2 separate regions of the Homo sapiens genome follow, and region 1 is linked to region 2. The links come from fine-mapping of genetic effects on gene expression. A gene starts in region 2. The other region holds a variant in brackets. All regions are shown on one strand. Distances are between the middles of the regions.

What was found. PIP is the estimated chance that this variant, and not a neighbour inherited with it, causes the effect.
Region 1: its variant is the best candidate, but not a certain one, in a credible set for the expression of FN1 in blood mononuclear cells (TOPMed, PIP 0.62).

Annotation. Positions count from the first base shown.
Region 1 is chr2:215,498,055-215,514,382 of GRCh38, forward strand. No RefSeq gene overlaps it. Among named protein-coding and RNA genes, the nearest start is that of FN1, 70 kb to the left of the region's middle. The variant T/C (reference allele first, on the strand shown) is at 7,501.
Region 2 is chr2:215,431,160-215,439,627 of GRCh38, forward strand. It overlaps FN1 (fibronectin 1), which reads right to left and starts at 4,909. Exons shown (of 46, transcript NM_212482.4): 1 at 4,496-4,909; 2 at 3,537-3,665; 3 at 2,165-2,302; 4 at 674-805. The coding sequence starts at 4,643. It overlaps FN1-DT (FN1 divergent transcript), which reads left to right and starts at 4,532. Exons shown (of 2, transcript NR_187198.1): 1 at 4,532-5,150; 2 at 5,760-7,786. RefSeq lists an enhancer at 2,221-3,420 and silencers at 4,933-4,992, 5,003-5,092.

The DNA of each region.
Region 1 (16,328 bases), 71 kb after region 2:
AAGGGCAATATTAATCCTCCTTTAGAATCAGGTGGGTCATTTGAGGTCAGGAGTTCAAGACCAGCCTGGCCAACATGATGAAACCCTGTCTCTACTAAAAATACAAAAATTAGCCAGGTGTGGTGGCTCACACCTGTAGTCCTAGCTATGTAGGAGGCTGAGGCATGAGAATCGCTGGAGCCTGGGAGTAAGAGGCTGCAGTGAGCTGAAATCATGCCATTGCACTCCAGTCTGGGTGACAAAGTGAGATTCTGTCCAAAAAAAAATTATGCATTTTCTTATTTTCTCTGTATTCTCTTGAGACGACAGCTCCAGTCATTAGAAAATGTAAACTCAGCTTTCCTTTTTACCTTTGGTTAAAAAAAATAAAAAAGTATTCACAGTTCTCTTCACAACTAGGCTGGCTTACTTTGGCCTGTGTTTTTATTTGCTCTTTTCTCCCCTATGTTGCCTTCTTTGTGCCCTGTTTTTCCCTTTCTGCTTCTTCTGAGTCACATGTTGACGTAACTCAGTGTGAAGCCTGGGGTTTGAGAAGATGTGGACGCCAAGTCCAGGTACACAGAGATTTTTGTCTGATAACACCACATACACTCCGCCTGCAGACTTCCTACATTGGAAACATCGCATTTTCAAACGCCAATTTGCCAAGCAGGTTGGCTGTGAATGTGCCTGCCTTCTGCTGCTTGTCGATGTGAGGCTGACTCGCTCCATTCCTCTAACTCTTGGGCTTCATTCGTGATTTAGCCACACTGATAAATATAGCTTCTTTTTGAAGTAGAGAGTCTAGATTTTTTTTCTCTCAGGCTTTAAAAAAATGGATTGCTTTATTCCAAACTTTATTTTTGATGAAATACAACTCACAACTCATCTTGGAAAAAAAAGCTCTTCAAATTTTGAACTGTTGAAAGTTTGAGTCTGAGGTGATATGACATGTTTTTGATCATTCAATAACTTTATTTCCTTTCTTCTCGATTGCTTCACAAGTTGGAAGTTACATGCACCTAATACCACTGTTCCTATTTGATGTTCTCAGATGTGAACAGGGGTGATGCTTCAATCCTTAATTAAATCTCCTCTTGCCCAAGCTCACTTCTACATTTTTACTAAGTTCTTTTCTATTCTATTTATAGTTTATGTATGTCTGAATTACATAGAATGTATGAGAGGGAAAGAAACATAATAGAGAAAATAAAGAGATACAAAGGAAAGAATAAAGTGAATGAAAAGACAATTCAAAGGGGGTGAGAATCTGAGCAATGGGTAGGAAATTTTAAGAAGAAATGGAATAGGGTTTCTACCTAAGAATATGAAATATTTCACTAGGTGTAGTTAGACAACTTGGCTTCTTTCATGAAACAAAACATAAAACTGGTATGTTTTCATAAAGAAATGTTCCATATTTTAAGACTGCCAAAAGATGACACCCACACATGCCGGTGGAATTTGGTAACATTTAACTGTGTGAAAACAAGAGGTCTCAAAGATAATGATTCAGAGTCGGCAGAGTGTTTATTTATCTTTGATTTAGAAAAGACATTGTCTGTTATTTGGCTGTAGATATGTCTTAAGGACTCTTTTAGGTGTGGTCTTGCTGAAACCAAGAGCTTAAGGCAAAAACAGACATGCTTTCCCCTTTTTGATGTTCATGCTGCACCAAAATACACCTAACATCTATGGTCTATGCTGGGAGACCCTCCATGATCACTTAACTTTAAATAGACAGATGGATAAATAGATGGTACTTGCTCTTACTCAGCACTGGTCAAATTTTTACAAGAATGTACTTTCCAGCTTGGAGCTCCACATCTTAAGAGAACTCTAACATTTGGGAAAGATTCAGAAGAGACTGTGAATGTTGATGAGAGGGTTGGAAAATGGAACTTATAAGAAAGAGTTAAAGAAATTGGAATTGCTTTTCTTGGAGAAGAGAAGTAACCTGGTAACAGTCTTCCCATTTTTGAAGTTACATAATATACATGATGATTGCCAAGTGTTTTCCTTCTCTATCAAAGAACATCAGAGGTCAAGTGCTCACACTGCATATATCACATATAAGGAAAACTTGTTGCTTGTGGTGGTGGTAGTGTTAAAAAGATAAACTGGTAACCATTGGCTTTGTAAAAACTTTTCTGGAATTACTTAAATATTGGATAGTTTTTTGGTCTCATATTTTCTGAGGATTGGAAGATAATACTTATGTCATAGTTCTTAATGCATCATGATTTATAAGTCTATAAGAACAAAAATGTATTTTAAAGAAATAAGTGTAGATAATGGCCCAAGATTCATAGAATCTATAATTTACTTTCCGTTAAATAAGTGAAACCAAGACAGGAGATGTGGTTTCCATAGTGACTTTAGGAGTAAACATTTTAGTGTGATACTCTGATTTCTTAAAAAAACACTGCTGCTAATTGACATAAGGAAAGGTAAAATCAAGTGTGTGTGTGTGTGTGTGTGTGTGTGTAAAATATACAATAGATACTATGTATAATAATACAATATACAATAGATATATGTATGCTAAGTTATATGGCCACCTAAGAACCTCAGTTAGAATTTTATTTTTTAAAAAAAGAGAAAAACCCCAGAGCTCTTTCTTTTCTTTCTTTTTCTCTTTCTTGCTTTCTTTCTCTTTCTGTCTCTCTTCCTTCCTCTTCCTTCCTTTTTTCTCTGTCTTTCTTTTTCTTTCTCTCCCTTTTCCTTCCTTCCTTCCTTCCTTTCTTTCCTTCTTTCTTTCTTCCAACTAAGTTTATTCTTCTAGTGATCCCCAAGTAGATATGCTGCTATGCAAAACTCCTTGTGTGAACCAATATACTTTAAATATTCCTCATGTTCCCAGGTTGTAAAATAAGCTGATCAATTCAATAATAAAACAATTTGAATGTCTATCTACTCTATAGTCACTGGTGATGTTGGTTATTTGGTTACCTCAATGAAGAAATAAAACTCATTGAATTCTTTGGCAAATTTCTACTTTTTGTAGTGCTAGGATCATAGAAACATAGTCTCATGATTCATCTGCATTTTAAGCTCTAATAGAACACATCACATTTTAGGGGGAAAATCAATTTTCACCTAATGTTAGCAAAAATGAGATTAAATATTGCACTTATCAAAAATAGCATTATGTGTTTTCCATGATGCAGGGCTATATTTATGTTTTGGTTTTTAATCATACAAATGCATTGTATTCTGTTTTCAGTTCCACTCTTATCACTAGAAGCATTTCTTTGTGCTGAGTAGAACTACAAATATACACATAATTCTCTATGAGTAGGCACAAACAGCTTTGCTTTTAAAATTTTGGCAGCAAATCATCTGCTATGAAAACATGGTTTAATAATTTCTGGTGGAAATATATTAATACCACAGGCTTTCAGATTAAGTCATAAAAAGAAAGGTTTAGATTTTTGTCTTTCACATTTTATTTTAGAAAAAAGACATACCACACAGGCTCACACCTGTAATCCCAACACTTTGGGAGGCCAAGGCAGGTGGATCACAAGGTCAGGAAATCGAGACTATCCTGGCCAACATGGTGAAACCCCGTCTGTACTAAAAATACAATAATTAGCTGGGCGTGGTGGCCTGCACCTGTGGTCCTAGCTACTTGGGAGGCTGAAGCAGGAGAATGGCGTGAACCTGGGAGGCGGAGCTTGCAGTGAGCCGAGATTGCACCACTGCACTCCAGCCTCGTGACAGAGCGAGACTCCATCTCACAAAAAAAAAAAACAAACAAAAAGACATACAGTGTTTATTTAATATAGTGGTTTTGCTTAGATGCTCACTTTTGAAAGTTATTTAATTGGGGGGAATGAAAAATGTTTTAAAACTTTATTGTGGACATTTTCAAACATTCAGAAAAGCAGATAGGATGGTGTAATGAACTCTTATCACCCATCATTCAACATTTATTAACACTCTGCATTCCCACTTTACTTACCCCTACCTCTCTCCCTTAAAACAAACATACAAACAAACAAACAATAACTTTACTGGAGCTTAAATGCACTTAAACTTCCTTTGGGAATTAGTGATATTTTTGTCAGTGTCTAAAATGTAAGCATTTTTATTAGTCAATTTATTCATAATTTTATACTAACATTTTGCTACAGAATACTGAGTATATTAATTTCCTGTGACTGCTGTAACAAATGACCACAAACCTAGTTGCTTACACCACCACCAACTTATTATCTTATAGTTTTGGAGGTCAGAAGTCTGAAATGTGTCTCAGTGGGCTAAAATCAAGGTGTCAACAGCAATGTGTTACCTTCTGGAGGCTCTAGGGAGAATCTCTTTTCTTGCCTTTTCTGGCTTGTAAAGGCTGCCTGAATTTCATGGTCTCCTCCATCTTCAAAACCAGCAATTGTCAGTTAAGTCCTTCTCACATAGCATTACTTTAACTCTTCCTTTTCTGCCTTTCTTTTTCTCTTATAAAGACCCTTCTGATTACATTGGGCCCAACTGGAAAATCTCATCTTTAGGTCAGCTAATGAGCAACATTAATTCCATCTGTAACTACCATTTACTTTTGCCAAGTAACCTAACATAGTCATAGGTTCTGAGCATTAGGATACCGACATCTTTTGGGGCCATTATTTTGCCTACCACGTAGGGCATATTTTATATTGATTTGCAAATATACATTTATGTCTTTCATGTGAAATGTATAATATAGATTTAACAGTCATAGAGAAATAGCAAAGAAGTATTTTACCATATTCTTTGGGTTGAGTCCACATCTAATTATGTGGCCTGATTATTCTTTAACTCACTGTTCAATCTGAACACACACAGTAGTAATTATCATCTCATATTTGGGAGAGTAAAGTAAAAAAACAGCAATAATAACAAAAATAGGCCAGGTGCAGTGGCTCACACCTGTAATCCCAGCACTTTGGGAGGCATGTGGATCACCTGAGGTCAGGAGTTTGAAACCAGACAGGCCAACATGGTGAACCGCTGTCTCTACTAAAAATACAAAAATTAGCCAGGTGTGGTGGTGCACACCTGTAATCCCAGCTACTCGGGAGGCTGAGGCAGGAGAATTGCTTGAACCCAGGAGGCGGAGGTTGCAATGAGCTGAGATGGCACCACTGCACTCCAGCCTAGGGGACAGAGTGAGACTGTCTCAAAAAAACAAAGCAAAACAAAACAAAACAAAAATGACCACGGAACAGATCAATTACAGTAGAATAGTTTACGCAGGTGGAAGGGCCTTCTGACCAGGAATCTTAACATCACAATCTATACATTTATTTATCCTAGAGTATGTCTGTAGCTCTGTTACCTAGGATGCCTCAGCCAACTGAAATGATAGGTACTTTCTCTCCGGCTTCACAACTTTGTCTTCCACAGACTGCCCTAGGCCCCCATGCCATGCCCAGACACTTATTTTCCCTTCATTGTGTTCCCTAATATTATGGTCAGTGGGGAGGCCTCTTAGATTTGCCTTACAGTGAAGAGGGATGGTGTAATTTCACTGTTGCCACTAGCCATAAAGTTGCAGACAGAGAGGCTACAGATGTGGAGCAGATGTGCATAATGATCATTTAAAAAATTCTTTGTATAGCTCTCATAAAAAAGTGACTGTGATAAATGTTTGTGTGTTTGGTGCTCACATTCTATTCTATTATTTAAACAGAATCATTAACTTGTTTGTACTTTACAATCTATTTTTATTTGCACTAAAAACTATTTATTACTACATTATTTCTCTTGAGCTTGGGAGGATGACAGCTTTGCCCTCCCTCCCAATTTAGGATGAATTCATTTACCTTTCTCTTTTTCTGTTCTAGACGGAGTTGTTCCAAAGGATGGGGAAACACCTTCCTTGAAAGGAGCATATCTCATGGAGGCAGCATCAGCATTAGAACCAGGTGAAATCTGAGCCCAGACACTCGATCTAGTTAATTTCTCTGAGCCTTCATTTCTTATTTGCAAAATGGGACTAACAATATAATCCATAAAGTTTCTGTGAGAAAATGCAGGGATAATTATAGAAAGCAGGTAGTGCTGTATCTGGTGGATTAAAGGTCTGTTCCCTTCCCTTTCCTATGGAGGAGGCCATGCCACTAGAAAAACACCTTTAGACCCACAAACTTTTGCTTTTAAATAAAATTAGTTTCCTATTTGTGGGTATCATGAAAATTCTTAGATAGACTTCCACAAAATTTGGAAAGTATTGTTTAGGAAGATCTGATTTAGAATTTGGGTTATGTGGCATATGATAAGAATCACTTTAGGAGATCCTGGGAAGCCTCAAAGAAGTAGGCAGTCATCATACAGGAGCTGAAAGTAGGGTTGAACAAGGGGTATGAATAAACGTCATTTAGGAGAGGCCTGTCATATTCAGTAATATGCCCATAGATGGAACAAAATGGAACATTGGTTTCCAATAGGTCCTTAAATTGAAAGCCATAAGGGTAGGTGCTTTGCAAAGCAGGTATGATTTGTATCCAAATTACCTCTCACATGGGCACCTTGTGGATTTCTCTGGACAGAAGTGCAGCAGGAACCTACTTTTTAATGAATAATGGTTATTGAGTCATTCAAACATCCCAGAATAGCCAGTGGGACCTGGCTGTTCTCCCTTCAAGTTCTTCGCCACCTGTAAGTCACAGAGCCACAGCTGTGGTTCTTCTGCAGGGGCCACAGAGCCCTTCCTCTGCACTTGGAAAAAAATGTCATGTGCTGACTCCAAGAGTGAGTCTTCTGGGGGTACAGGAGACACAGAAACAGAAACTTTCCAAGAAAAACACACTGACTAAACCAAATGACAGAGCAGAAAACATTTTCTGATAAGGCAAAGGGTAATAACTTGGTGAGAATTACACAGGTAATTAAATAGTTGTTTCCAAGGGCTAGGAAAAGACAGGCATCGTCTGTGTTGGACAGAAGGGGAGTTTTGGATTTATTAACATGGATATGAGGGTTTAGGGTTATTTGTGTTTGTGGTAAAGAGCTCAGAGAAGAAGTCTTTATTTACTGCCTAAAGATTTAGTAAGTCAATTTGTTCCCTGCCTTCTATCTCATCCACAGACAATATCTTCTTAAATAGGATACTAGATTGCATGCATGATGTTAAACAAACGTGGAGTAGGAAAATCACCTTATTGAAATAGCTCTTGAGGTGTCCTTAACTCACAAGAACATTGGGAAATTTTCAGACTTTCTCACCAACAGAGGACATAAATACCAAAGGCAAGATGTAAAGTTATGCAAACCTCTGTGGCTGGAATAAATATTTTGTACTTATGGAAAGTCCACTAGAAGACCACTTCTGAATTCAGATCTGTATCAATTAATGGAAGAAAAAAATGGGTTGGAGGAGCCAAATGGGGAATGTTACAAGACGTATTAATGTATAATCAAAATTTAGAAATAGAGGTGGTTCTGAATTGGAATTGGCTTTAGATAAAATACAGAACAGGAAAGAATGGGAGTCCTCTGTTCTAGAAGGGTAGGCTGGCTACAATCGGGTGAATAAGACAA[T/C]TTCATAAGAAAACGTTTTGAAAGAATATGAGAGGAAACTGCAAGAGCAGAAGAAAGTAATAAACTCATTGCACAAGAATTTCAGAAGAACTAGGGTCAAAAATACAGTCACAATCTGGCAGCTTTCAGGAGGAGGTGGGGAGTAGATAAGGACAAAGAGGTGGGAAGGGAGATAGGGCCAAGTCCAAAGTGCCTTTCAGACTCTCCCTGAGTCAGCAAACCTTGCTTCTTTTTACTTTTACTTTTTCTGTGGGCTCTGAATGGTTCTTTTAATCTATATTCAGGCAGAGTAACAGGCGTGATGAATTTATAATGTAAAAGGTACACTTTGGGAGGCTGAGGCGGGAGGATCACGAAGTCAGGAGATCGAGACCATCCTGGCTAACACGGTGAAACCCCGCCTCTACTAAAGATACAAAAAATTAGCCGGGCGTGGTGGCGGGCGCCTGTAGTCCCAGCTACTCGGGAGGCTGAGGCAGGAGAATGGCGTGAACCCGGGAGGCGGAGGTTGCAGTGAGCCGAGATCACGCCACTGCACTCCAGCCTGGGCGACAGAGTGAGACTCCGCTTCAAAAAAAAAAAAAAAAAAAAAAAGCCAGAAACGCTCACTAGGCAAAAAAAAAAACTTCTCTTCGAGCAGCCTGGTAGGGCCTCTAGCTGGAGAATATTCAGTTGTGTTAAGGCATCTTAGTAGAGCACCAGTGGTATCTGGAAGAAGGTGCCCCCAAAAGCCTCTATCCCTCATCAGCAGGTTTACACAATTCATCGAACAGATTTAATAGTTACAGATTACTCTGTTAACTAGATTTTGAGAAAACAGTGCAGAGTGTTGGCAGAGCAAAGAGAGAAAATCAAATTCTGGAGTGTGGAATGTTTACCCAAAAGAAATGGCAGTAGCAGGAACTAGGAGCCTGAAGGGGGTGCCTTTGTGTAAAAATGTTTTTGATTTCTGATGCCTACAGCTGGATTTTTAATGTAGCTCAAGTCCGACAGAATGCAGGTAGGAAAAAGAAAGCAGCAATGAATTGTTTGCCTCTTCTTTAAACTCTGTTTCTGAAAATAAAATTTGTTAGTATTTTAAACTTAAAACCCTTCATGATTATTATATCCTTAGTTCTTATGTGTCACTGATATACTAAAATAGGTTGTGAATATGATAGAAAGTGAGATGAAAGAGAGAGAGTGTGGTAAGGCTGTGGGTCTGTGAAACTCCAAGGCCAGATGCTGCTCACCTTATTATGGAACAGGTATGTTGATTCAAGCACAGGGTCAAAGGAATGGGCCAGGGTGACTCTTTTTGGAATAATAGTGAACATGTGTTACTCACTCATAGACTCAACCTGCTGATTAATATATGTTATCTCTTGAATTTGAGAATGAAGTTGTACAATTCCCATTTATAGTTGTGGAAGCTAAGGCTCAGAGATACACAGTAACTTGCTGTGTAGCCAGTTGTGGCAAAAAAAAAAAAAAAAAAAAAAGAATTTGTATTTATTTCTGTCTGATCCTAAACAGGTGTTTTCCAGGTATGCACCCTTCCTGCTCACATTTTGATTGGTTTTGAATTCTTGTGTATTATTGACTGTCTACTTCACTAACATCAAGTATAAAACAAAAAATGTATTGCAGCCTAATGTTTAGCTTCTCTACTCTTTTATATTGCCTATATTTCCAGTTCCTTAGATTTGCAAAAGTTATGAAGTTAAATATAAATCATACCTGCAATTGCATTAGTATATTGGTATAGTGCCCTTTCATTGAGTTTGCAGGAAGTGAGCTGTCTTTAAGAATATCCAGTTGTAGGAAGTTCCTCTTTTTCTTTTTTTGTTACTCTCAAAAAGTCTTTGGTCTTTCCTTGTAGTAAATTACTAAGCACTCTAGTTTGGCTGATTTCTAGATTGAATATTAAAGAATTCTATGATAAAGCAAACTTTAAAAAATTACAAACACTGAATATTTTTAAAGTCAAAGAATAAAATCTGCAGAGGCTGTCCATTGGATGTGATTCAGCCACATGTGTTTTTGGTGCAGATTTTTCTCCCTTTCAGTGAAAATGTCTTTCTATTTTCTTGACTTTGATCACTTTGGTGTCAGGGTGCTTTATACTCAGTGGTCATCTGTCAGCCTTTTCATAAGTCAGTTTCTTGCATCCATCTGGTGAATGGCAAAAGATTTTGGTTTAGGCAATTGCATGCATTACTCAAAAGACTGTGGAGACTTTGAGAAGGAAAGAAGGAAAATCTTCATTGCATACTTTTAACTCTTTTTTTTTTTTAAATTAACTTCCCCATCAGAGTGTTTGAAAAAACATTTTGATATGGCATGTGAAATAAGAACAAGAGGAGGTGAGAGGCCTTTGATCTGTGTGCTCTCCTGAAATACGCATGACCAGCTCTAGGATAAAGAGGGTGAGAGGCTTGTGTTTTGCACCCACATCTCTCTTTCCATCAGTTCCTCCCACTCAGCTGCGTGGTCTTCTTGTTGCTCAGAGCCCTACCTTTTGATCTGGCTGCCAGAGCTGCATTTCTTTTGGGTAAACGTTCCACACTCCAGAATTTGATTTTCTCTGTTTGCTCTGCCAACACATAACTGCCCTGTTCTCCCAAAATCTAATTAATGGAGTAATCTGTTAAACTATTCAATCTGTTCAATGAATTGTGTAAACCTGCTAATGAGTGATAGAGGCTTTTGGGGGCTCCTTCTTCCAGATACCACTGGTGGTCTACTAAGATGCCCTCACACAACTGAATATTCTCCAGCTAGAAGCCCCCACCCAGGCTGCTGGAAGAGAAGTTTTTTTTGCATAGTGGTTGATTTTGGCACCTTTTACGTCATACATTCCTCATGCCTGTTACTCTGCCTGAATATAGATTAAAACAACCATTCAGAGCCCACAGAAAAAGTAGACAAGCAACTCTGAAATTAGGGTATAGGGCTGGAATATGGAGGATACAAAAGAGTCTACATTAGCCCCAAATCTGGCCATCACATGGGAGAGGCAGCTGACACAGATATCTAGAAAGCAAAGCAGAGGCTCATAACTCCTGCAGATTTCGGGAGTGTAGTCTGGTAGCCTGACTTCCAGGACCAGTTTATTCATTTACTCATTATTTTATTCTTTCATTCTTTCACATTTCTTGTACAACTATTATGGGTCAGTCATATGTGGTTAAATGCGCTAACAGTTCTGTCATTTTCCTGGTTGGAAAAGTAGAGTCAATTTACAAAAAAGAACAAAACTAGGGTTTCTGAAATAAAGATTTGTAATTTGCTTTTTTCATGCAGGTGCAAATTATCTTAAACTGATATAAAAAAGAAGAAACAGAAATTTTAAAATATATGTTTTTTACAAATGTGTACCATCTAATTATCAGCTAGAAGTCTTATTCTGTGAAGAGCTAACACAGGTTCTAGTGTAATAATAATAATCAGCATAACATTTATTGAGTATTTACTGTACATGCCAAACAACTGTGCTGTGTGTTTAACATGAATTTTTGCATTTAATCCTTAGGAAAAATTCTGTGAGACAGGTTTGTTATTACCTTCCTTTCCCAGATAAGCAAGCAGATCAAGAAATGTTGATCGCATAGCTGGAATTTAGAGCCTGAAATTGAACCCAGGCAGTCTGACTCCAGAGTCTGCAGTCTTTTGTTGATGTTACCTGTCTCTACTCCAGCCACAGGTGGTTCACGACCTATGATGGTTCAACTTAATGATTTTTTGACTTTACAATGGTACGAAAGCATTTGGTAGAAACTGTACATCAAGTACTCGTATAACCATTCTGTTTTTCACTTTCAGTATAGCATTCAATAAATTACATAAGATATTCAACACCTTATTATGAAATAGGCTTTGTGTTAGATGATTTTGCCCAACTGTAGGCTAATAACATAGTTGTTCTGAGTATGTTTAAGGTAGACTAGGCTAAGCTATGGTGTTTTGGTAGGTTAGGTGTATTAAATGGATTTTTGACTTAGGATTTTTTCAACTTCCGATGGATTTATCAGGATGTAACCCCATCATAAGTTGAGGAGAATCTGTTATTTTAAACCCGTAGAATTAGCTGTGCCTGGTGGTAGGCACCTGTAATCCCGGCTCCTTGGGAGGCTGAGGCAGGAGAATTGCTTGAACCTGGGAGGTGGAGGTTGCAGTGAGCTGAGATCGTGCCACTGTACTCCAACCTGGGTGGCAGAGCAAGACTCCATCTCAAAAAAAAAAAAAAATTTTTTTTGAAAGAATAGTACAATGTATGTAAGAGTGAAGCAATAAAGATACATGCACATGCATGTTTATTGCAGTACTATTCACAATAGCAAAGACTCAGAATCAACCCAAGTGCCCATCAATGATAGACTGGGTAAAGAAAATTTGGCACATATACACCATGGAATACTATGCAGCCATAAAAAAGAATGAGTTCATATTCTTTGCAGGAACATGGATGAAGCTGGAAACCATCATTCTCAGCAAACTAACACAGGAACAGAAAATCAAACACCAGATGTTCTCACTCATAAGTGGGAGTTGAACAATTAGAACATATGGGCACAGGGAGGGGAACATCACACACTGGGGCCTGTCAAGTGGGGTGGAAGGCAAGGGGAGGGATAGCATTAGGAGAAATACCTAATGTAGATAATGGGTTGATAGGTGCAGCAAACCTCCATGGCACATGTATACCTATGTAACAAACCTGCACGTTCTGCACATGTATCCCAGAACTTCAGTATAATAATAAAAAAAGAAAAGAATAGTACAATGAGCTCCTGCTCATCCTTTGCCTAAATTCACTGAATGTTAATATTTTGTCATGTTATCTTTCTATTTAGGTATATGTGTATCCCTATGTGTATGTGTGTGTGTCTAAAACAATTTGAAAGTACATTTTAGACAAACTGTATCTTTAAGAACACTTATATTCTTCTATCAAGGGACAGACATTGCATTTGGCATATTGCTTTAGTTCCTGTAATCTAGAAAAGTCCTCCTACCTTTTTTTTCTGTTATTTGTGACATTGATATTTTTGAAGAAATGAGGTCAGTGTTCTTAGAATATCATACAAGCTAGATTTGCCTGGTTGTTTCCTTATGATCAGATTCAGTTAAACTTTTTTTTTTTTATCAAGAATGCTACAAAAATGATGGGCAATTCTCATGATTTCCTATTAAAAGACAATCTCAACTTGTCTGGCTGACCACAGGATCTCTCTATTATGAAGGTACCTTTTTCCTCTTTCTTTGATGTTCAAATTGCACCAAATTTACCCAGTGAAAACTTCCAAGCCAGCCTCTGTATTCATTTAAAACATATTCTTTAGTGTTTGAGCATTTCTTTACTTTTTTTTTTCTCAATAATTTTTTTGTACTTTTCCTGCCTTTGACCTGGAATCATTCATTTCTCAAAAAGCTTCGGTGCCTTTTAATCAGGAATGATATTTAGAAACTAAAGGTCTGGGCACTAGTGTATTCACTGAAAAAGGATTTTCATTGTTTTGATTTATTTTGTTTTCCTACTTATTTATTATGGTAAAAAAACACAACATAGAATTTACTGCCTTAACCATTTTGGAGTGTACAGTTAGGGCTGTTATTGCTTTTAGGCCTTTTGAAAGGGCCTAAAATACATACGAATAGAAACAGAAATATAAATTCATGAGTGTTATTATTTCTATCACATTAAATTATAAGTTTATATGATGTCACAGGGCTTTTTTCACCTCCTCTCATTTCATATTTGTAACTTCCTTTTCCTATAATGTAAATCTATATATTAATTGCTTTATTATACACAAAATAGTTTGTTAAACAACACCAATATCATTACCAATAAAAACCTACTCAGGTCAAGATTTCTTTACATTTGTTTTATTTTTAGACTATATCTTACTGAGAATATATTGTCAGAGTACTGCATTATAAAGTTATTTGAATTACCTTTTCTGACTTATTATGAATTTCAGCTATTCATTTTCTTTGTTTTGTTTTTAAATTTTATTTTCTGAACTGAAAAGTATTTGTTTGGTCCTTCCCACAGAACCTGTATTCTTGACCTACATTTTTTTCATTCATTCATTCATTCATTCATTCATTCACCATAAGAACCTGGTTCAGTTTTAGGCATTGAAATATAACAGTGAGCTGGAAAGTGAAGTCTCTCACTCCTTAGGGAAATGAACAAATAAAGATAGTAATTTCAGTGGTTCATAAATTCTGTGGAGAAAACTTAAGTAAGACAAAGACTGAAAACGGGCAGAAAGAGCTACTTTGGATTGGAAAATCAGAGCTGGCCTTTTAGAGGTGGGGCTTGAACTGAGACCTCGGTACAGAGAAGAGAGTCAGTTGGCTGGCAGAGTGAGCCAGGCCCGAGGCACCGGCTGTGAATGAGAGGCATAGTACTGGGAGGTGAGAGCAGGGAGACCATTCTGACATCCAGAGAGGGACCCTCAGGCCGCAGTAAGGAGTTCTGATTTTATTCTAGGTTATAGGAGACTGGAGGGGTTTTACTAGCAGAGAATTGTGAGATCTGGCTTGTATTTTTCAGAGATCACTCTGGTTGCTGTGTGGAAACTGGGTCCCAGGCGGACACAGGTGAAGGTAATAGGTCCAAGTTCAACAGCAGGAGTCCACAAAACACACTGGTGAGAGGATCTGGCTGAGAGTGAAGCAGTAACAGAAGGGGTGAAAAAGAAGTGAGTCAATTCAGGATATGTCAAAAGGCATCCTAAAAAATTATTTTTGAAATTTTATCAGTGTTCTAGTTTTCATAAAATTAAATTTTCTTTTGTATGAAAATTCATGAGAGATAAATTTTTAAAAATTTTCTGACTTTAAATCAATCTTGAATTTACAGAAAAATTGTAAGTACACTACAAAGAACTCTTTTTTTTTTTTAACACCATTTTGGAATAAGTTGGTGGCAGGATTTTCTGTCCCATCCTAAACTTTATAGTGTACTTCTTCTTCTTTTTTGAAACAGAGTCTTGCTGTGTCACCCAGGCTGGAGTACAGTGGCCCGATCTTGGCTCACTGCAACCTCCAGTTCAAGTGATTCTCCTGCCTTGGCCTACCAAGTAGCTGGGATTACAGGCATCTGCCACCCAGCACAGGCACGCCCAGCTAGTTTTTGTACTTTTAGTAGAGATGGGGTTTCACCGTGTTGGCCAGGCTGGTCTTGAACTCCTGACCTCAAGTGATCTGCCGGACTTGACCTCCCAAAGTGCTGGGATTACATGCACGAGCCACTGCACCCAGCCATTACAGTGTATTTCTTACCAACAAAAGCATTCTCTTCTATAACTGCAGGGTAACCATCAAAATTAGGAAACTAATATTGCTTGATGACTATGCTTTGAATCTCAGATCCCACTGACGTTCTGCGAGTTGTCCCAATAATTTTCTGTATAGAAAATTCAAGTCAGAATCACGTGTTGCATTTAATTGTCATGTCTCCATAGACCATGTCAAATCAGAACAGTTTCTTGGTCTTTCCTTGACTGCACGATCTAGACACGTTTGATGATGACAGATCAATTATTTTGTAAAATGTCCCTCAAAGGTTTGTCTGGAGTTTTCTCATGATTAGGTTTTCATTTTGCACATCTTTGGCAGTAGTATCATGGAAGAGATGCTGTGTTCTTATTGCATTGCATCAGGTGGCGCATGATTTTTATTTATTTTATATCTGATGCTGTTCACTTTAATCCTTTATTTAAGGTAGGGTCTGCCAGGCTTACATACTATAAATGACTGCTTTTTCCTTTGAAGCTAGTATGTATTTTGTTAGGAGGTACTTTGAAACTATATAAACATCTTGATCCATATCAAACTCTCCATTTATTAATTTCTGCATTTATATGAGTATGGATTCATGGTTTCCCATTTTATTAGGTAGATTATAACCCAATACTATCATTATTTATATTTATATAAATCATTCCAGATTTGGTCAGTAAAAGCCCCTTCAAGCTGGTTTCTGTGTTCTTTTGACATGTTTCCATCCTTACTTTCTGGCACAAAAAGATATTTCAAGCTCATCTTGTATTTTCATTGCTCCAGCCCTAAGATCAGCCATTTCTCCAGGGAGCTTTAGTTTATTTGGATGGAGAAAGGGAGTTAGAAGTCAAGATCTAAGTGCTGGTTTGTTCATTATTATATTTATATAGTTTCAAAGTACTGCCCAACAAAATGCATACTAATTGCAAAGGGGAAAGAAAGCAGTAATTTACAATAAATAAGCCCAGCAGATACCACCTTAACAATGTCATTGTTATCCACTCAGTGAATGAAGCTGGAGATGATGTGTACGTGTGCACACACACACATACATACACACATTTACATCTGTCTACCCACCTATCTGTCTACAAAACCACTGTTTTATACTGATACCTCCAATTCTATTCCAACATGACAGGATTCAGTCTAGCTTTTCTCCCTTTTTATATTTTCAACCACCTTCTCCAAAAGTGAGAAATCTGCCTTCAGTTATCTTTAACGTATTGATTTTCTCAATTGCCCTGTCTGTAACCAATCTGCTGCCTCCTGCCCTATGGAGATAACCCCCTCAACCCACTTGGATTTGGTTCAGGCATCCCCTAACCCACCTCCCATCCCGTCTCATCACCAGGCTATGTAGGTGCCCTTTTCCTCATCTGGTTGGATTCCAATGCCCTGTAACAGGTTATCCTGTGTGGATACCAGCTCAGACTTAGGGAGTCCAGACCAAACCACTGCTGCAGGACCCTCACCACTCTCCCAACTGTGGCCAACATGTCTACCTTGTCCAGGCTCAAACACTGAGTGCTGGTCATTCTTAGTCTCCA
Region 2 (8,468 bases):
CTGTGGGAGACTACATATGCAAAATTCCAATCTTAATTATAAATGACCAATTATGAATTTTGAGTGGCCTAAATACAATGACAAAGAAAGCTATTTTTAAATATTGGAAAGCAAAACAATACAAAACAAGACAAAAACCTCTAAATTAGAAGACAAGTAAACAGAGTAAAATTTATAGCCAGAAACTTTCAGGCTTGTACTTACAAAATTCAACTGAGGATTGAGATCCAAAGAAGCTCAACAACTTTTAATTTGAAAAGAAATGAGCAGAGTGTGACAAGCACACACTATTTCATGTTTCGGTCCAGGACATTCCATATAGAAATGTGTCCAAAGTGTCATTTTTTTTTCTTTTAAATAAATTATATCTTGACGAAGGAGGAATCTGAGATCAGCTATTAGGTAAAAGAAATGACTCCATTCTAAATCTTTCAATTCTACCTTATGCTTTTGAAGCAAAGTTAAGACTTCTATGTGTAGTCAGTACTTTTTGATCTAACTCCTGTAAGAAGACTATGGATTATATAATAATTCATTATTTCAAACAAAATTCCCATTTCTTTATTGGTTTTCACTGGAATTCAGGTCTATGACCTATGTAGATGTGATTCTGGTCCAACCCCACATTAGAACTAAGCATCCCAGCTCTTGCTCAGCCCTAAGACTCACACACCTATGGGCTTGCAGGTCCATTCTCCTTTTCCATTACCAAGACACACACACTCTAACATGTAACCACCAGTCTCATGTGGTCTCCTCCAGGTGTCACCAATCTTGTAGGACTGACCCCCTTCATGGCAGCGGTCTGTTGAAGATACAACGAAAATGTTAGGAGAGGGCAGAACAGATTTTTTTTTTTGGTCTCATATTCCACCCATGGTAGGTACTTAGGTTGGCTAAAGTAGAGACACAGACAACAGCTTTCCCATCAGAGACAGGGGAAACGTTAACAGGTCTGGTCACTTGGAGTCAATTCAGTTAAGTGTCTTGCTTAGAACACAATGGAAAACCACAGAGAAATCTGGATGGCAAGGAAGAGGTCATGAATCCTGCTTTCCCAGAGAGATCACAGGAAATTGGGTCCTAAGCAGAAAAGAAAGGCTGGGAGGCTTGGTCTTCACTCATACACAGCAGGCTAAGACTGAGACTAATTCAGTGAAAAGGCCACATCAGGCACAGCACTCCAGCTTTTGGGAGCATGGAGAGCCTGTATTTTACCCTAGGATAGAAATGTCATTTTGGTGGAAAGCAAACAGACATATGCATATAAAGTGTGGAAATCCTGGTAGTTTTCTAAGTTGTTAAGCCCAATGGCACATTCAAATGCTGAACTAGATTGTAAACACTATGGACCCTTGCCTCTTGCGATTTGCCTGTGAACTTGGATAAACCCTAACATGAAATATGGGGAAAGTTGATTGGGCCTATTCACACGGGACTTGTTCTTTTGAATAGAAGTCTTTAAGACGACTTATATTTAAAGAATGGATTAAAAAACTTAAATACTATCTTAATAGAATCTATTGGTAACCCAGTGAATCATACTGGAAAGAGTGCCTTAGCTAAACTAGAGTTGAGAATCAGCCCGGTTCCCAAAGTTCCTTAGCAAACTCTATTGGGTTAATAATTTTGTATTATCCCTAGGAATAGTGACATCTGCTTCCTGGGTATAACCTACTGGTCACCAAGAAACCAGACTGTTTCTGTGAGGTGCAAGAGGTCTCTGCATTGCAAACATGAAGACCAGACAACACATGGCTGGTTCACTCTTCATGAACACCTTCCCAGTCACTGCAGAAAAGTCTCATGATTTGTCTAGCTTGAAGATATCCAGGTGATTTAAAATGGGCAACTCCCCTAAGCATGTCTTACTGAAATGGAACCCAAGAGGTCTCTTGGTTCTACTATGTACAGAAACACACACACTCATAAATGCACACACACTCATAAACGCACACACATCAAACACTGATTCCATCTGTGCTCATACCCGTCTTTAAGAAACACAGGAACCAGTTGGGTGACCACTTAAGAGTACCTGGTCACCAGGGGCAAACCTCAAAGTTCGGAATATCCAGTCATGGATAACAGAAAATGACAGTGATGGTAACAGAGAAATTCATATTTGATATTTTGGCATCATTTTACACAATCTCTTCCTTACTTGCGATGGTACAGCTTATTCTCCCTCGCCCAGCCCCGATGCAGGTACAGTCCCAGATCATGGAGTCTTTAGGACGCTCATAAGTGTCACCCACTCGGTAAGTGTTCCCAGTGTACTTGTCAAAGCAAGTCTCTTCAGCTGAGGGGAAAAGGAAAGTCCATGTGAGCCTCACTTAGGTACAAGCTTTTCTAGTTCACTAATCCCCTCTAAAGGAAAACCCACTTCTCTATTCCACAAGTAACATGGTACACCTCAAAGAATAAAATGAAGTGAGAGATACAGATTTTTATCCTAAGCTCTAATAAGGCCATGGTTTTTGACCTTGACATATTGTCAAATTTTCTGTAAATTATTCATATTGTAGAAAAATCTCAGGCTCTTAGGAAAAGGCCATATAAAGTACTAACTTATGACAGAGCTAGATTTGTGAAGGGTTTCACATTCCAATCTCTGACTCAGAAAGTCAAAGCAAGGTTCACATAAAAAGCAAACGATTGGCCGGGCACAGTGGCTCACGCCTGTAATCCCAGCACTTTGGGAGGCTGAGGCGGGTGGATCACCTGAGGTCAGGAATTCGAGACCACCCTGACCAATACGGTGAAACCCCGTCTCTACTAAAAATATGAAAATTAGCTGGGTGTGGTGGCATGTGCCTGTAGTCCCAGCTACTCAGGAGGCTGAGGCAGGAGAATTGCTTGAACCCTGGAGGCAGAGGTTGCAGTGAGCTGAGATAGTGCTACTGCACTCCAGCCTGGTGACAGAGCAAGACTCTGTCTCAAAAACAAAACAAAACAAAAACAAACAAACAATTCGAAGATCCCCACCTCCCACAAGGCCTTGACAGTTGTTAATCCTATGATTTCCATTTTCCCCTGATCAGTGCTTCTCTGACAGAGTTGCTATAATTTATGAGAAAAATATCATTGGTCCTAAAGGAATGAGAACTTTGAAGTGGCTAATGGTTTTGTGTTAACTGCCGCTGACAAATCATTTTACGATGTAAGTCCCCAAAGTGTTTTCTGGCTCATAAACTAACAGTTTAAGATTTGAGACTGCTTTCTAATAAATTAAAATTTTATAAGCAATTTTTTTTGTCGGAGGACACACAAAATCTTTCATTTTTCTCATCAAAAACTTTGGGAGAGTAAAGCAAAAAGAAGACTCTAGGAACTAATTTGGGAAAGATTCGTTTCTTTGTTTTAAAGGTAAAAGCATGTGAAAAGCAAATATAAGCAGTTTTTAAACTTAAGAGGAAATGACAGGTAATTCTATTAGAAAAATGGTGTATGTATTTTTACTTACTAATGCAAAGTTTAACAATTACCACTTCATGTATTAAAAGATACTAACTATGGGGCTTGTTGTCACTTACCTTCAGGTTTACTCTCGCAGTTAAAACCTCGGCTTCCTCCATAACAAGTACAAACCAACGCATTGCCTAGGTAGGTCCGCTCCCACTGTTGATTTATCTGATAGTGTTTTCCATTGTCATAACAACCGGCTGCAAATAATTGAAGGAAAACGTTACATTTGCATTTCTCCTTTTCCCAAAATTATGGAATTTTCTTCATGTGAATATTGACGTACATATTTTTTTCCTTTTAACTTTGCTAAAAGTTATATACAATGATGTCATTTCCATCTGGCCAGGGGTCTACATAAAAAAGTTGGAAACATTTTGGAAGGCAGACAATTGAAGTCACATTTTTAAAACATGCAAGGAACTTAAATATTCTTTTGGAGTAATAGTCAAAAAGGACAACTTTAAGCAGCTTTCTCAAAGCAAAAGGAGGGTGTGTCTTTGAAAAACGGAAAGAATTCCAACCTCTGTTCTTGGTGAAGTATCCTGAGCGGCCCTAAAGAGGTCTGAACCAATTACATCTCTTCCAAGTTAGTTAGAAACAAGACAGCTATTTCAATACCCCCTTTCCACCCCCATGTTGAAAATATTTGACCAATTATTTAACAGAAGGAAATAAGTAGCAGTAAGGACCACACTAATCCCAGACGGAAAATTTATAGACATGCATCATTTTTCTCTTTAAAGGCAAGTTTTGGTTAATTCCTAGAAGGACAATCTGAACGTGCAGAATTTATTAGAACACGGGAAAGTCGCAGAGTCCTCGTCCTCCAATGCACGGTCTTATCATCCCAGGCCCTCAGAACCAGCGTGCTCAAAACTCGGTCCTTTTGTGTGCACAGCTGGTTTCTCTCAGTAAAGCGCGCACACACTCGCACACACGCGCGCGCACAAAACTTCAGCCCCAACTTTGGTCGGCTTTAGGGTCCCATCCCTGAGGCAGCCTGTTTCAGCCCGCGGTCAGTACTCACGCTTGCTTTGACTGACAGCCACCGGGGACTGGGGCTGAACCATTTGCTGAGCCTGCCTCTTGCTCTTCGAGGCTCCCGTGGAGGGCACCGCTGTCCCCAGGCACTGGACGGCCAGCAGCAGCAGCCCGGGCCCCGGACCCCTAAGCATGTTGAGACGGTGGGGGAGAGACGCCCGCACCGGGAGGCAAGTTGCCACCAAGTTTGCTTCCCTTCGCAACCTGCGGGAAAAATCCCTTCTAATGCCTCCCGGGGGTTGTCGCCTCCAAGAAGGTGGGGGCCAGAGGGTGGGGAAGGGGACGGGTGGAGGGACAGAAGGGATGCAGAGGACCAGAGAAGTTGTGGCTGCAGGTCCCCTCTTCCCGCTCGCGCCTGGGGTTCCCTCTCCTCCCCCTGTGCAGCACAGCCGGCGCGGGCGTCCGAGCGCCGGGAGCCGGGGCTTATATGGGACGGTCCCCTCCCGCCCCTCTGGAGGCCCGGGGCGCGGGGGAGGAGAGACCCGCCGGGCTGTCCCCGCCCCGCCCCACCCCACCCGCCCGCCCGCCCGCCGGCCGCCGCAGCCGACCGCGCGCCGATTGGCCCGGGCTCCGGGTGACGTCACGGGGGACTGTGGGTTCGCAGCGAACAAAAGAGATGCTGATGGCCCGCCAGGACTGGGGCAAGACAACTTTTTTTCGGTTTCCTTTGCGGTCATCAAACTTTTTAGGGGATGGGGGAAGGGATGGGAAGCGGCTGGGAGGAAAGGGAGTGGCTGGACTTGTGTGAAGCGAAGGGGTTGCAAGACGCTCCCCCTTCCCTTTTCTTTTTTATTGGGGGTGGTGGTAGTGTTTGAGGACATTGCGTCACCTCTCTTCGGGGTGGAGGGGGGGAATCTCTGCTTATAGGAGTGTATTTTGTGAGGAAGAAAACCCATAAAATATCCACGACCTTGCAGCTGTTAAGAATCCAGACTTTTCAGTCCCAGGGCGGGGCTGCCTTTCCCCCCATCCCGCTCCCTTTCTTTGGACTAAAGGGTACTGACTCGGGACTCCCTTATTTTGTCTTCACAGCTCCCTGTTCGGACTTCTTCCCTTCTCAGCGCTGTGCCTGTCTGGCTCTGAGAAAGGGCCAGCGGGCGAACGGGGAGCAAAGGGGAACAGAGACCTTTAATGAGCTTCTACTAAGTACCGGGAGTTCCGCGGGGCGCTTTGCAGATCCCGGGGAAGTTCAGAGAATGAAGTTTTCTTTTGCAAGGACAAAGTAACAGTTTACTTTTTTACACATGCAGGAAAGCCTTCCTTTCCTGGGGATGGGACGCCCGTTTCCACTGAAAGTGAAATCACTGTGAACAACCTGAAAATTGGAAAGTTGGACCAGCTGTGGGGAGAGAAAGGTCTTCGTGTCCTTTCCCACGTTCACCGTGCCAGTTACACACAAAGCAGAGATTTTTTTGCTTGAATCATTAAAAGCCGGGTGGGTGGGGGGCACCCTATGTACTGTCTTGCCCTCCTTCGGCCCCTTTCTCACATTTATTTGCCATTTTCTTTTTGCTGACAAGTTCCATTACAGAATGCCCCCTCCATCCCCCGCCGCCAGATTTTTTATATTTCAATTGTTATTTACTCCAAGAGTGTGGAAAGTTCTCCTTTAAGATTCCCCCGCCTTGAACTCTAAACTCAGAGTGGAAAGGGAATCTGAAAAGTCTCTCATTTAGCAACACATCACATCAGTCCTTTTTGTCAGATAAACACAGGCACAATTGCTTTTAAAGATCTTCAGAAGGAGGAGTCCACCACTTCCACAGTAGATCCAGAGAGACCCGAACTGAATGCTTTGCCTTCTCCTTGTGTTAGGAGTTCAGAGGTTCCATTTGCTTTAAAACACAAGAAGCTACTAATAAAATATATTTATTTCGGCAAGGTACCTATTTTCTCCAAAAGTTTCACCTTCAGTAATTGCCACAGGAGTAATTAGAACTCTGTGTTCTATAAAATGCCTGACACATTAAAGACACAAAATTAGCATTTGTTTTTATTCATGCAAGGATTTAAAACCAAACCAAAACAAAGCAAAACACCCAGCAAATATCAGTTTCCTACAAATAGTGTAAAAAAACCTCTTGAGGAATCTTTGTGACCCACACTCCAAATTGAAAGAGTGCCATGGATTTCCCCAAATTTAGAATCCTGTCTGGGTTAGAGGATTTTTTTGGAATTTCTCATCACTTGACAAAACAGTTTTCTCTTTTCAAATATAAAAGAGCTCCTTGTAAAATGCTTGGTAAATTTCTGGGAAGCCGAGTGTTTCTTCCAGAGGGAAGGATACCTGGAAATCCGGATGTAAGCAAGATAAACCTGTAGCTAAAGCTTTCTTAAAATTCATTGATTCTGGGGGAAGGAAATAAGTGATTAGAAAAGTATTTGGTCAACCAAAACCATGATAGTTTGATATATTTACTGCACTGAAAATACACTAGAATCATATGCATAGTGGAGCTTGAAGTGGAAAGCCCACCTTACATTTTGGAAGAAACTTTTATATTTCAATCCCATAGATATCTAATTTATTTAAGGAAACAGGATATCTCTGTCTCATAAGAAAAAAAATAACATCTGACTGATTTTTATAGGAATGCTTGGGAGTTTACTCTTTTACTTGAAAGGTTTTTTTTTTTTTTGCCTTTTTTTTTAAACTTTAGAAACAGAGGCGTTTCTTAGTTAAGATAACAGGGCTTACTACAGTATTCTTTAATTATCAAGGTCCCTTGTAACTCTAAGTCTGTTATCTCTAATTGGAGAGATAATTAAATCTTAAAGACCACTCTGACTCTAATTCAACCAACGTGTGTGGTGTCCAGGATCGTTGGACTTCCTTAAGAATTCTATTTTATCCAGGTGGGTTCTTCCTCAGTAAATTGTATTCTCCTATTGGTAGGAAATACTCTTGGATTTCTTTCTTTCTTTCTTTTTCTTTCTTTCTTTCTTTCTTTCTTTCTTTCTTTCTTTCTTTCTTTTTCCTTCTTTCCTTCTTTCTTTCTAAAACTGTATTCAGAGAGAGAAATGTGACAAAAAAAGGGAAATCAATAGAGACAGAAAGTAGATTCATGGGTACCCAAGTTTATGGGCTGGGAACAGGAATTAACTGTAAAAGGGCACAGGGAATCTTATTGAGGTGATGGAAATCTGTGTTCTAAAACTACATTGCAGTGATGACTGTACAATTTGGTAAAAGCTTCAAAATTCTGGGGATTATACACAAAATGAGTGAATTTTACGGTATGTAAATTATGCTTCAATAAAGTTGTTTTTTTCAAAAGTTGATTTTAAAAATTAGTATTTGTTCTTTTTTACTCTTAACCATCTCCTGATTTTGGTTTCAAAGACTTGCTCTCAGGTAGCAGCAACATACACAAGGCGTCCTCATTTCTTCATTTTTCTGAGAGGAAGTTTGCCTTGAATATAGTAGTGGATTTCTTCTACACCAGTAACTCCTTCTGAAACCTACTATTTGTGTGAAGGCATATATGTGGTAGAGACAGAACAAATCTTCATTTAGGACTGTGCCTTGTTTCTTCTTGGAATTGCCATAGTGATAGAATTTTCCCAGAGCCTCAGGCAATTTAAACTTTTTGTAACAAAAAGAAGCACATATATTTTCGGGAACTAGGGGGGTGTGGGTGGCGGGGGGCAATGGTATTGGGAAATTTTATTATTCCAGAAGGTTAAGGAGGAGCATGAGCAATTATGGAAATCTGAATTAAATTGATTTCATTTGTTTTGAAGATTAGCAATGGAGACATTTGATTAAGCACAAAAAATAATTGATCAGATCCAGTCATTTAGAAGGACTGAAATAAAAACAGGCTAGGTGTGGTGATTCATTCCTGTAATCCCAGCACTTTGGGAGGCCAGTGTGGAAGGGTCACTTAAGCCCAGGAGTTCAAGTCCAGCCTGGGCAATATAGTGAGACACTCTTAATAATAATGATAATAATAACC